Regions from separate parts of the Homo sapiens genome. Here region 1 is linked to region 2. Evidence: fine-mapped expression QTL. A gene starts in region 2. The other region holds a variant in brackets. All regions are shown on one strand. Distances are between the middles of the regions.

Evidence for each region. PIP is the estimated chance that this variant, and not a neighbour inherited with it, causes the effect. A credible set is the group of variants that fine-mapping cannot tell apart.
Region 1: its variant is the best candidate, but not a certain one, in a credible set for the expression of CCDC158 in lung (GTEx, PIP 0.80).

What each region holds. Positions count from the first base shown.
Region 1 is chr4:76,317,306-76,322,476 of GRCh38, reverse strand. The region is part of intron 24 of CCDC158 (coiled-coil domain containing 158); the gene reads left to right. Among named protein-coding and RNA genes, the nearest start is that of STBD1, 13 kb to the right of the region's middle. The variant G/A (reference allele first, on the strand shown) is at 3,080.
Region 2 is chr4:76,418,435-76,423,605 of GRCh38, reverse strand. CCDC158 (coiled-coil domain containing 158) reads left to right here and starts at 2,465. Exons shown (of 25, transcript NM_001394954.1): 1 at 2,465-2,641.

The DNA of each region.
Region 1 (5,171 bases), 100 kb after region 2:
TCAGAGCTTCACTTGCGTTTTCTTCATGTAATTTTCACAACAACATTGGGAAATGGGTACTGTTATTACAGCATTTGAAAATGAGGAAACTGAAGATAAAAGAACAGTCAATAAATTCCAAGTCACAGTGAAGAGTAGATCGGGGACTTGGCCTCTGCAATTTCTGACTCCAAAATCCACATGTTTTTAATATAGTAAGGCTTTAGCAAATTGTTGTTGAAGAAAATTCCAAGTCCCTGTGATAACCCAAGACCCCTATGTATATGAACATTAGGAAAAGCATTTGGTTTTAAGTTTATTGTGAATTTGTGGGGTTTTAGCATTTTTTTTTAAATTTCAATAGTTTGGGGGGAACATGTGGTGTTTAGTTACAGGGAAAAGTTCTTTAGTGGTGATTTCTGAGATTTTGGTGCACCCATCACCCAAGCAGTATATGATGTATCTTTTTTCCCTCACCCACCTCCCACCCTTCCCCCAAGTCCTCAACGTCCATCGTATTATTATTATGCCTTTGCGTCCTCATAGCTTAGCTCCCACATATAATGAGAACATACAATGTTTGTTTTTCTTTTCCTGAGTTACTTCACTTAGAATAATGGTCTCCAACTCCATGCAGGTTGCTACAAATGCCATTATTTTATTCCTTTTTATGGCTGAGTAGTATTACATGGTGTGTATATATATACATATATATATTTATTATATATATATAAAAAATATATATATTTACATATATATGTGTACACACCATGTAAATATATCATATATATATATACACACACCATGTAAATATATATATATATAAAAATATACATGGTATATATATGGGGGAAGAATGGGAGGTGGCTGAGGTGTGTGCATATATATATAATATATTATATTATATATATATACACACCATGTAATAGTCTCTCTATATATATAGATAGATCGATATAATTTTCTTTATCCACTAGTTGGTTGGTGAGCATTTAGGCTGGTTCCATATTTTTGCAATTGTGAATTTTGTTGCTATAAACATGCGTGTGCAAGTGTCCTTTACATATAATGACTTCTTTTCCTCCAGTAGTGGGATTACTGCATCAAATGGTAGTTCTACTTTTAGTTGTTTAAGAAATCTCTGTACTGCTTTCCATAGTTGTTGTACTAGTTTACAGTGTAAAAGTGTTCCCTTTTTACCACATCCACACCAACATCTGTTGGTCATATTTTTAACTTATGTCATATTTTTAAATTATGGCCATTCTTGCAGGAGTAGGTAGTATCATACTGTTGTTTTGATTTGCATTTCCCTGATCATTAGTGATGTTGAGCATTTCTTCATATGTTTGTTGACCATTTGTGTATCTTCTTTTGAGAATTGTCTATTCATGTCCTTAGCCGACTTTTTAATGGGATTATTTGTTTTTTTCTTGCTGATTCGATTGAGTTCCTTGTAGATTCTGGATATTAGTCCTTTGTCAGATGCACAGTTTGCAAATATTTTCTTCCACTCTGTGGGTTGTCTGTTTACTCTGCTGCTTATTTCTTTTGCTATGCAGAAGCTTTTTAATTTAACTAGGTCCCATCTATTTATCTTTGTGTTTGTTGCATTTGCTTTTGGGTTCTTGGTCATGAACTCTTGTCTAACCCAATGTCTACAAGAGTTTTTCTGATGTTATCTTCTAGAATTTTTGTGGTTTCAGGTCTTAGGTTTAGGTCTTTGACCCATCTTGAGTTGAAGTTTCATTCTTCTACATGCCACTTGCCAATTATTCCAGCACCATTTGTTAAATAGGGTGTCCTTTCCCCACTTTATGTTTTTGTTTGCATTGTCGAAGATCAGTGGCTGTAAATTTTTGGCTTTCTTCCTGGGTTCTCTATTCTGTTCCATTGGTCTATGTGCCTATTTTTATACCAGTACCATGCTGTTTTGGTGATGATAGCCTTGTAGTATAGTTTGAAGTCAAGTAATGTGATGCCTCCAGATTTGTTCTTTTGCATAGTCTTGCTTTGGCTATGTGGGATCTTTTTTTTGTTCCTTATGAATTTTAGGAATGTTTTTTCCAGTTCTGTGAAGAATGATGATGGTATTTTGATGGGAATTGCATTGAATTTGTAGATTGCTTTTGGCAGTATGATCATTTCCACAATACTGATTCTACCCATCCATGGGCATGAAATGTGTTTCCATTTGTGTGTGTTGTCTATGATTTCCTTCAGCAGCATTTGTAGTTTTTCCTGTAGCGATTGTTCATCTCCTTGGTTAGGTATATTCCCAAGTATTTTATTTTTCTTGCAGCTGTTATAAAAGGGGCTGGGTTCTTGAATTGATACCAAGCTTGGTCATTGTTGGTGTGTAGCAATGGTACTGATTTGTGTACATTGATTTTGTATCCTGAAACTTTACTGAATTCATTTATCAGATCTAGGAGCTTTGTGGATGAGTCTTTAAGGTTTTCTAGGCATAGGATCATATCATCAGCAAACAGCAATAGTTTGACTTCCTCTTCACCCATTTGGATGCCCTTTATTTCTTTCTCTCGTCTGACTGCTCTGACTAGGACTTCCAGTACAATGTTGAATAGCAGTGGTGAAAGTGGGCATCCTCGTTTTGTACAAGTTCTCTTGGAAAATGCTTTCAATTTTTCCCCTTTCAGTATAATGTTGGCTATGAGTTTGTCATAGATGGTTTTGGTTACCTTGAGGTATGTCCCATCTGTGCCGATTTTGCCGAGGGTTTTCATTATAAAGGGATGCTGGATTTTGTCAAATGATTTTTCTGCATTTTTTGAGATGATGATATGATTATTGTTTTCAATTCTGTTTGTGTGATGTATCATATTTATCAACTTGAGTAGGTTAAACCATCCCTGCATCCCTGGTATGAAACCCACTTGATCATGGTGTATTATCTTTTTGATATGGTGTTGGATTCAGTTAGCTAATATTTTGTTGTGGATTTTTGCATCTATGTTCATCATGGACATATATATATATATATATATATATATATATATATATATATATATTTTTTTTTTTTTTTTTTTTTTTTTTTTTTTTTTGATACGGAGTCTTGCTCTGTCACCCAGGCTGGAGC[G/A]CAGTGGCATGATCTCAGCTCACTGCAACCTCCACCTGTCGGGTTCAAGTGATTCTCCTGCCTCAGCCTCCTGAGTAGCTGGGATTACAGGCACATGCCACCATGCCTAGCTAATTTTTTTTTTTTAAGATGGAGTCTTGCTCTGTTGCCCAGGCTAGAGTGCAGTGGCACGATCTCAGCTCACTGCCAGCTCTGCCTCCCGGGTTCACACCATTCTCCTGCCTCAGCCTCCCAAGTAGCTGGGACTACAGGCGCCCACCAGCACGCCTGGCTAATTTTTTGCATTTTTAATAGAGACAGGGTTTCACTGTGTTAGCCAGGATGGTCTTCATCTCCTGACCTCAAGATCTGCCCACCCCAGCCTCCTAAAGTGCTGGGATTACAGGCGTAAGCCACCGCGCCTGGCCACTCCCAGCTAATTTTTGTATTCTTAGTAGTGATGGGGTTTCACCATGTTGGCCAGGCTGGTCTCGAACTCTTGACCTCGTGATCTGCCCACCTTGGCCTCCCAAAGTGCTGGGATTGCAGGTGTGAGCCACTGCACCCGGCATCATCATGGATATTGGTCTGTAGTTTTCTTTTTTTGTTATGTCCTTTCCTGGTTTTAGTATTAGGATGATACTGACTTCATAGAATATGTGGATTTTTGCATCTGTGTTCATCATGGATATTGCTCTGTAGTTTTCTTTTTTTGTTATGTCCTTTCCTGCTTTTAGTATTAGGGTGATACTGACTTCACAGAATGATTTAGGGAAGATTCCCTATTTCTTTATGTTTGAAACAGTTTCATTAAGATGGGTACCAATCCTTTTTTAATGCCTGATAGAATTCAGCTGTGAATCCATCTGGTCTTGGACTTCTTTTTGTTGGCATTTTTTTAATTACTGTTTCAATCTCACTACTTGTTATTAGTCTCTTCAGAGTTTCTGTTTTTTTTCCTAGCTTAATCAGGAGGGTTGTATATCTCCAGGAATTTTCCATCTCCTCTAGATTCTCTAGTTTGTGCACATAAAAGTGTTCATAGTAGCCCTAAATGATCTTTTGTATTTCTGTGGTATAAGTTGTAAAATCTCTCATTTCATTTCTAATTGAGCTTATTTGGATCTTCTATCTTCTTTTCTTGGTTAATCTCACTAATGGTCTAATAATTTTATCTTTTTAAAGAACAAGCTTTTTGTTTCATTTGTCTTTTGTATTGTTTTTTATTTATTTACTTCAATTTCATTTAATTCTGTTCTGATCTTTGTTATTTCTTTTCTTCTGCTGGGTTTGGGTTTAGTTTGTTCTTGTTTCTCTAGTTCCTTGAGGTGTGACCTTAGAGTGTCTATTTGTGCTCTTTCAGACTTGTTTATGTAGGCATTTAAGGCTATTAACTTTCCTTTTAGCACCACTTTTGCTGTATCCTAGAGGGTATGATAAATTGTGTCACTAGTTTCATTCAGTTCGAAGAATTTTTAAATTTTCATCTTGATTTCATTATTGATCCAAAGATGATTCCAGAGTAGATTATTCAATTTCCATGTATTTATATAGTTTTGAGGGTTCCTTTTGGAGTTAATTTCTAGTTTTATTCCACTGTGGTCTGAGAGAATACTTGATATCATTTTGCTTTTCTTAAATTTGTTGAGACTTGTTTTGTGGCCTATCATTTGGTTTACCTTGGAGAATGTTCCATGGGCTAATGAAAAGAATGTATATTCTGCAGTTGTTGGGTAGAATGTTCTGTAAATATCTGTTAAGTCTGTTTGTTCTAGGATATAGTTTAAGTTCATTGCATTGTTTAGGTGCATTGTTTTTTGTTGTTGTTGTTGACTTTCTGTCTTGATGACCTGTCTAGTGGTATCAGTGGAATATTGAAGTCCTCCACTATTATTGTATTAGCATCTATTGCATTTATTAGGTCTAGTAGTAATCATTTTATAAATTTGGGAGCTCCAGTGTTAAGTGCATATATATTTAGGATTGTGATATTTTACTGTTGGACTGATCCTTTATCACTATATAATATCCCTCTTTGTCTTTCTGAACTGTTGTTGCTTTAAAGTGGGTTTTGTCTGATATAAGACTAGCTACCCCTGTTCGTTTGTGGTAT
Region 2 (5,171 bases):
CCTCCCTCCCGGACGGGGTGGCTGCCGGGCGGAGACGCTCCTCACTTCCCAGACGGGGTGGCTGCCGGGCGGAGGGGCTCCTCACTTCTCAGATGGGGCGGCTGCCAGGCGGAGGGGCTCCTCACTTCTCAGACGGGACAGTTGCCAGGCAGAGGGTCTCCTCACTTCTCAGACGGGGCAGCTGGGCAGAGATGCTCCTCACCTCCCAGACGGGGTCGCGGCCGGGCAGAGGCGCTCCTCACACCGCAGACGGGGCGGCGGGGCAAAGGCGCTCCCCACATCTCAGACGATGAGCGGCCGGGCAGAGACGCTCCTCGCTTCCTAGATGGGATGGCGGCCGGGAAGAGGCACTCCTCACTTTCCAGACTGGGCAGCCAGGCAGAGGGGCTCCTCACATCCCAGAAGATAGGCGGCCAGGCAGAGACGCTCCTCACTTCCCAGACGGGGTGGCGGCCGGGCAGAGGCAGCACTCTCCGCACTTTGGGAGGCCAAGGCAGGCGGCTGGGAGGTGGAGGTTGTAGCGAGCCGAGATCACGCCACTGCACTCCAGCCTGGGCACCATTGAGCACTGAGTGAACCAGACACCGTCTGCAATCCCGGCACCTCCGGAGGCCGAGGCTGGCGGATCACTCGCGGTTAGGAGCTGGAGACCAGCCCGGCCAGCACAGCGAAACCCCGTCTCCACCAGAAAAATACGAAAACCAGTCAGGCGTGGCGGCGCGCGCCTGCAATGGCAGGCACTCCGCAGGCTGAGGCAGGAGAATCAGGCAGGGAGGTTGCAGAGAGCCGACATGGCAGCAGTACAGTCCAGCTTCGGCTGGGCATCAGAGGGAGACCGTGGAAAGAGAGGGAGAGGGAGACCTTGGAGAGGGAAAAGGAGGGGGAGGGGGAGGGGGAGAGGGAGAGGGAGAGGGCCCCAGCTTTATTGTCACAACCTACACATAGCATGTTGTAGGTGCCCTATAAATATGGATGGAATGAATGAATGAATGGAAAAGGACTTTGGATCCCTTTCTTGATCTTTTAATTCTTTATTTAAAAAGCTAAGAAGCTGTTTTTAATACAATATTTAAAAAATGTTGTAAAACCGCAGGACACTTCAAAATGTGATGAATTTTATAGTAAAATCAGGGGCACATAACTTTTCGTACATATATGTGGGTGTAGATAATTTCATGCTACACTAATTAACACACCTTTTAATTAAAGACGTTGAAAAGAAAAAAACCTTTTTGTGTGTGTCCAGGGTACAAGCACAAAATGAGACACCAATGGAAACCATGTATTAGGTATGGAAAATTTTTATGTCATTGAACACTCATGTTTTGATAGAAAAAAGAAAAAATTAGAAATTGCTTTTTGTCCAACCACAAGACCTAAATTATTTACCTTTCTATGTAATACTTATGGTTTCACTTCCTGTTAAAAATGCTCGATTCTATAGCTAATCCTAGATCTCTATAAGCCAATAAATGGATTAACTACAAAGATATGATAAACAATCTTTAATGGCATTTAATCTATTTTTATTAAAATTTGTAGCTACATTATTTAATGTAAGACTTACTAATATTTCTAATCAACTTATACATAAAAAGTTATTTGCTGTAGGTGTCTGCACAATGTGATTGCTAGCAGAATTAAATGCCTCAGGCTGCATCTATCAGACACTGGCCTTTCTGGATGCGTTCCATTTGATCGATAATTTGGGCAGCAAAATCTGATAAATTCTATATTAGAGATAATGACAGAGGGTAACTGTAGCACAGCGGAGGGAACAAGTCTCCAGAGGCAGAAGGGTCAGCTATGCCGAGAACACGTTTGAACTTGAACATTCGGGGACAGAGAAAACAGAGCTGCAAAATGTGAATTCTGTTAACTTGAAATGGTCAAATGGGAATGCCAGGAGTGGGAATGGGAGGGGGGGGTGAGGTGGGGCCGGGTGGGGGTGTCAGAGTAGGAGGCCCGGCGGGCAACTCCAGATTGGGCTTGACTCTTTGGCAGGTAAGAGCTCAGACTGGTGCGGGTCAGTGAGTTATCTGGGAAGACCACGGTGGGGACAGCTACGAGAGTGGCCCGAGGCGCTCGGGTGGGGGCAAGAGTAGGGCCGGAGACCAGTTAGGAGGCTGTGGGAGAAGCGGCAGAGGGCGCCGGGTGCAGGTCCGAACCCAGGGTAGTTTCTGGGGCAGGGCTCCAGGATTTGACTCCGGGCTGGGTACACCCCCACTCCTTAGGGCGCCCGGGCGGTGGTGGGGACTTCGACGCTCGGATGCCCCAGCGACGGCGTCCGGCGGGCGGAGTCGCAGGCGCGGGAGGGGTCCCCGCCGGGCAGCTGCCGAGCACCCCCCTCCTCCCCTCCCCCAACTACGAAGCCTCGCAGAGCGTCCTAACCGTCACCCACGCGGCTCGCGCGGACTGGGCAGCGCCCCGAGCGCCACAGCCGCGAGGAGTGACGGGCGCGGGCAGCTTCCGGCGCCGCAGCCGAGGAGGAGGAGCCGCCCCGCAGCCTCCGCGGGGCCTAGGGGCGAAGAGTGGGGAGCCGCCCCGTCCCAGCCGCCAGGTCGACGTAGGTGGGGCCGCTGCGCCCGCCGGCGCCCCGCGGAGATGTGGCCGGTGTCTTAGGATTAGGTGTTGGTTGCAGGTACAAGCGGGGCGCGGCCCGGGAGACGAGGATGGTGGGGTGGGAGTGGGGTTCTTCTGAGGACCCGGAGCGACTCGTGTTCATTTCTGGAATCTTCCGGTGCCTCGTGTTTGTTCTGCACATGGAAGATGCCCAATAAATTGTTTCTTTACTGGAATGAGCTGCTGTTGTTTTAGGGGATTGCAAGACCCCTGGGGACGGTGGCGCTGAAACCTGGACCTTGAAGAACACAGGGGCCTGCGCAAACTGATTTGATTTGTGGGGAAGAGAATCACCGAGTAACCTGCCCCAACGTGACTGCTGACTCTGTGTCTACCGCGCTGCCGCGAACAGGGGGAGGAGATGGGGAAGACTTGGTGGTAGAGAGGACAGCCTCGCATCCAAGACGGAATGGTGTTAAATGCCGGCGCAAGGGCCCTTTCAGCTTGAGCCCTGTCTTTAAACCACATGTGGGGGTCAGAGCTTTCCCTCATTATCAGCATCAATCAGCAACACAATGAGTTCTGGAAAGTCTCCATCCTTTTCCACAGCACTCTGCTCCAGGCCCCACTCAGGCTGCTCCAGGTTTTGTTTGTGCCTCATGCTGAACTCCAACGTCAGGGGAAAGTAGAAGTGAGGTCGGCTGTTGCCCAGGTTTTTTGACTGGCAACCAGTTCTTGCTGCTTCTCTCAGCAGGAGATTAAGGCGTTGTGGCCGGGTATGGCGGGGGCGTGTGGGGAAAGGACCAGGGCTTCCACATATCCCAGAGACATGCTAGGTAGGACTGTTTCTCTGTGCGGAAGCTCATCAGGTAAGGGTGCAGGAGTGCTGAGAGAGATGTGGTCCTCCTATCTCTGTACTGCGCTCATTGCTTTTAATCTTAGTGCGGTTATCTTACTTGTGTTGTGGGTGAAATGGTTTCCATGCCATAGAGTTAATATTATACTCCCAAAACAAATTGAGGACAGCAATTTATTTGTATGTATGCAAAGCCCTTACTGTTGTTGTGCATTTACAATGAGGACTTAGTTTTATCTAGTATGTTATGAGTGAGCCACTTTAGACCTCCACCATTTATTAAACAGGGCCTCTTGTGATCCACCCGTCCCCCAGCTAGATGGCCCCAAATTATATGGTAGGCTGAGCAGTGGCCACTCAAATATGTCAGGTCCTAATCCCTGAAACCTGTAAATGTTACCTTATAAGGGAAAAGTGCCTTTGCATACGTGATTAAGTAGCTTGAAATGGAGAGATTATCGTGAATTATCTAGGTGGGTCCTAAATGCAAACGCAAAGGTCCTAAGAGAGAGAGAGAAGCAGATTTGATATAGGCCGAAGAGAAGGCAATGTGACCACAGAGGCAGATATTGGAGTGATGTGGCCACAAGTCACCAAATGCCTGGCAACCAGCAGAGCTAGAAGAGGCAAGGAACTGATTCTCTTGCAGAGCCTCCAGAGGGAGGGAGGGAGCCCTGCCAACACCATGCTTTCTTCCCCATGAGACTGATTTTGGATTCCTGGCCTCCAGAATTATGAAAGAATAAGTTGCTATTGTTTTAAGCTACCGAGTTTTGATAATTTGTTATGGAAACTGTAGGGAACTAATACATATGAGCGTGCTCATAAATCACATACATGCTGTACTGATGAATAGTTTACAGGTCTTCAGCTGGGGCAATAGTGGGGTACAGTAGTGGAGATCACTGTATATTTATCTGAATCCTGTAAATCCTAAAGAAAGGATTTGAATAGGGAATTTGGTAAGAAAAGAAATTTAAGTGGTGCATATGAAGGAGGTAGTCTGGCATTTAAAGCAATTTTTTAAGAGTATTCCTATTAATATATCACTATTTGCTCTGGCTAAAAAGAATAAAGGTAAAAAGTGGCAAAGGCTTTGTCCTTACCTTAGCTGAATCATTATTGATTATCCATTGTGTGTATATCAAGTAAGAGTTGCAGACACCTGGGGATTGAGGTCCAGGCCTGGGGAAAAGAGGGAATGCAGAAGTGCTTCCATGTATTAAAATATGGCTAAAAGCAACCGCTAGTCATCTGGAATTAAGATACTTTGGAGTTTTCAGGATACAGGAAAATTCAGTGTTCAAGTTTAATGATTCACTTCTGGGACCCAGGCAGCTAATTTACACTTCCCACTTTCCTTGATATGGTTTGGCTGTATCCCCACCCAAATCTCATCTTGGATTGTAGCTCCCACAATTCCCGTGTGTTGCGGGAGGGACCCAGTGGAAGGTAATTGAATCATGGGGGCAGGTCTTTCCTGTGCTGTTCTCGTGATAGTGAATAAGCCTCACAAGATCTGATGGTTTTATAAAGGGGAGCTCCCCCTGCACAAGCTCTCTCTTGCCTGCCGCCACATAAGACTTCCCTTGCTCTTCCTCCATGATCGTGAGGCCTCCCCAGCCATGTGAAACTGTGAGTCCATTAAACCTCTTTTTTCTTTATAAATTACCCAGTCTTGGGAATGTCTTTATCAGCAGCATGAAAACAGACTAATACACTCCCCACATCTGCTTTCTTTTCAAACTGCTTT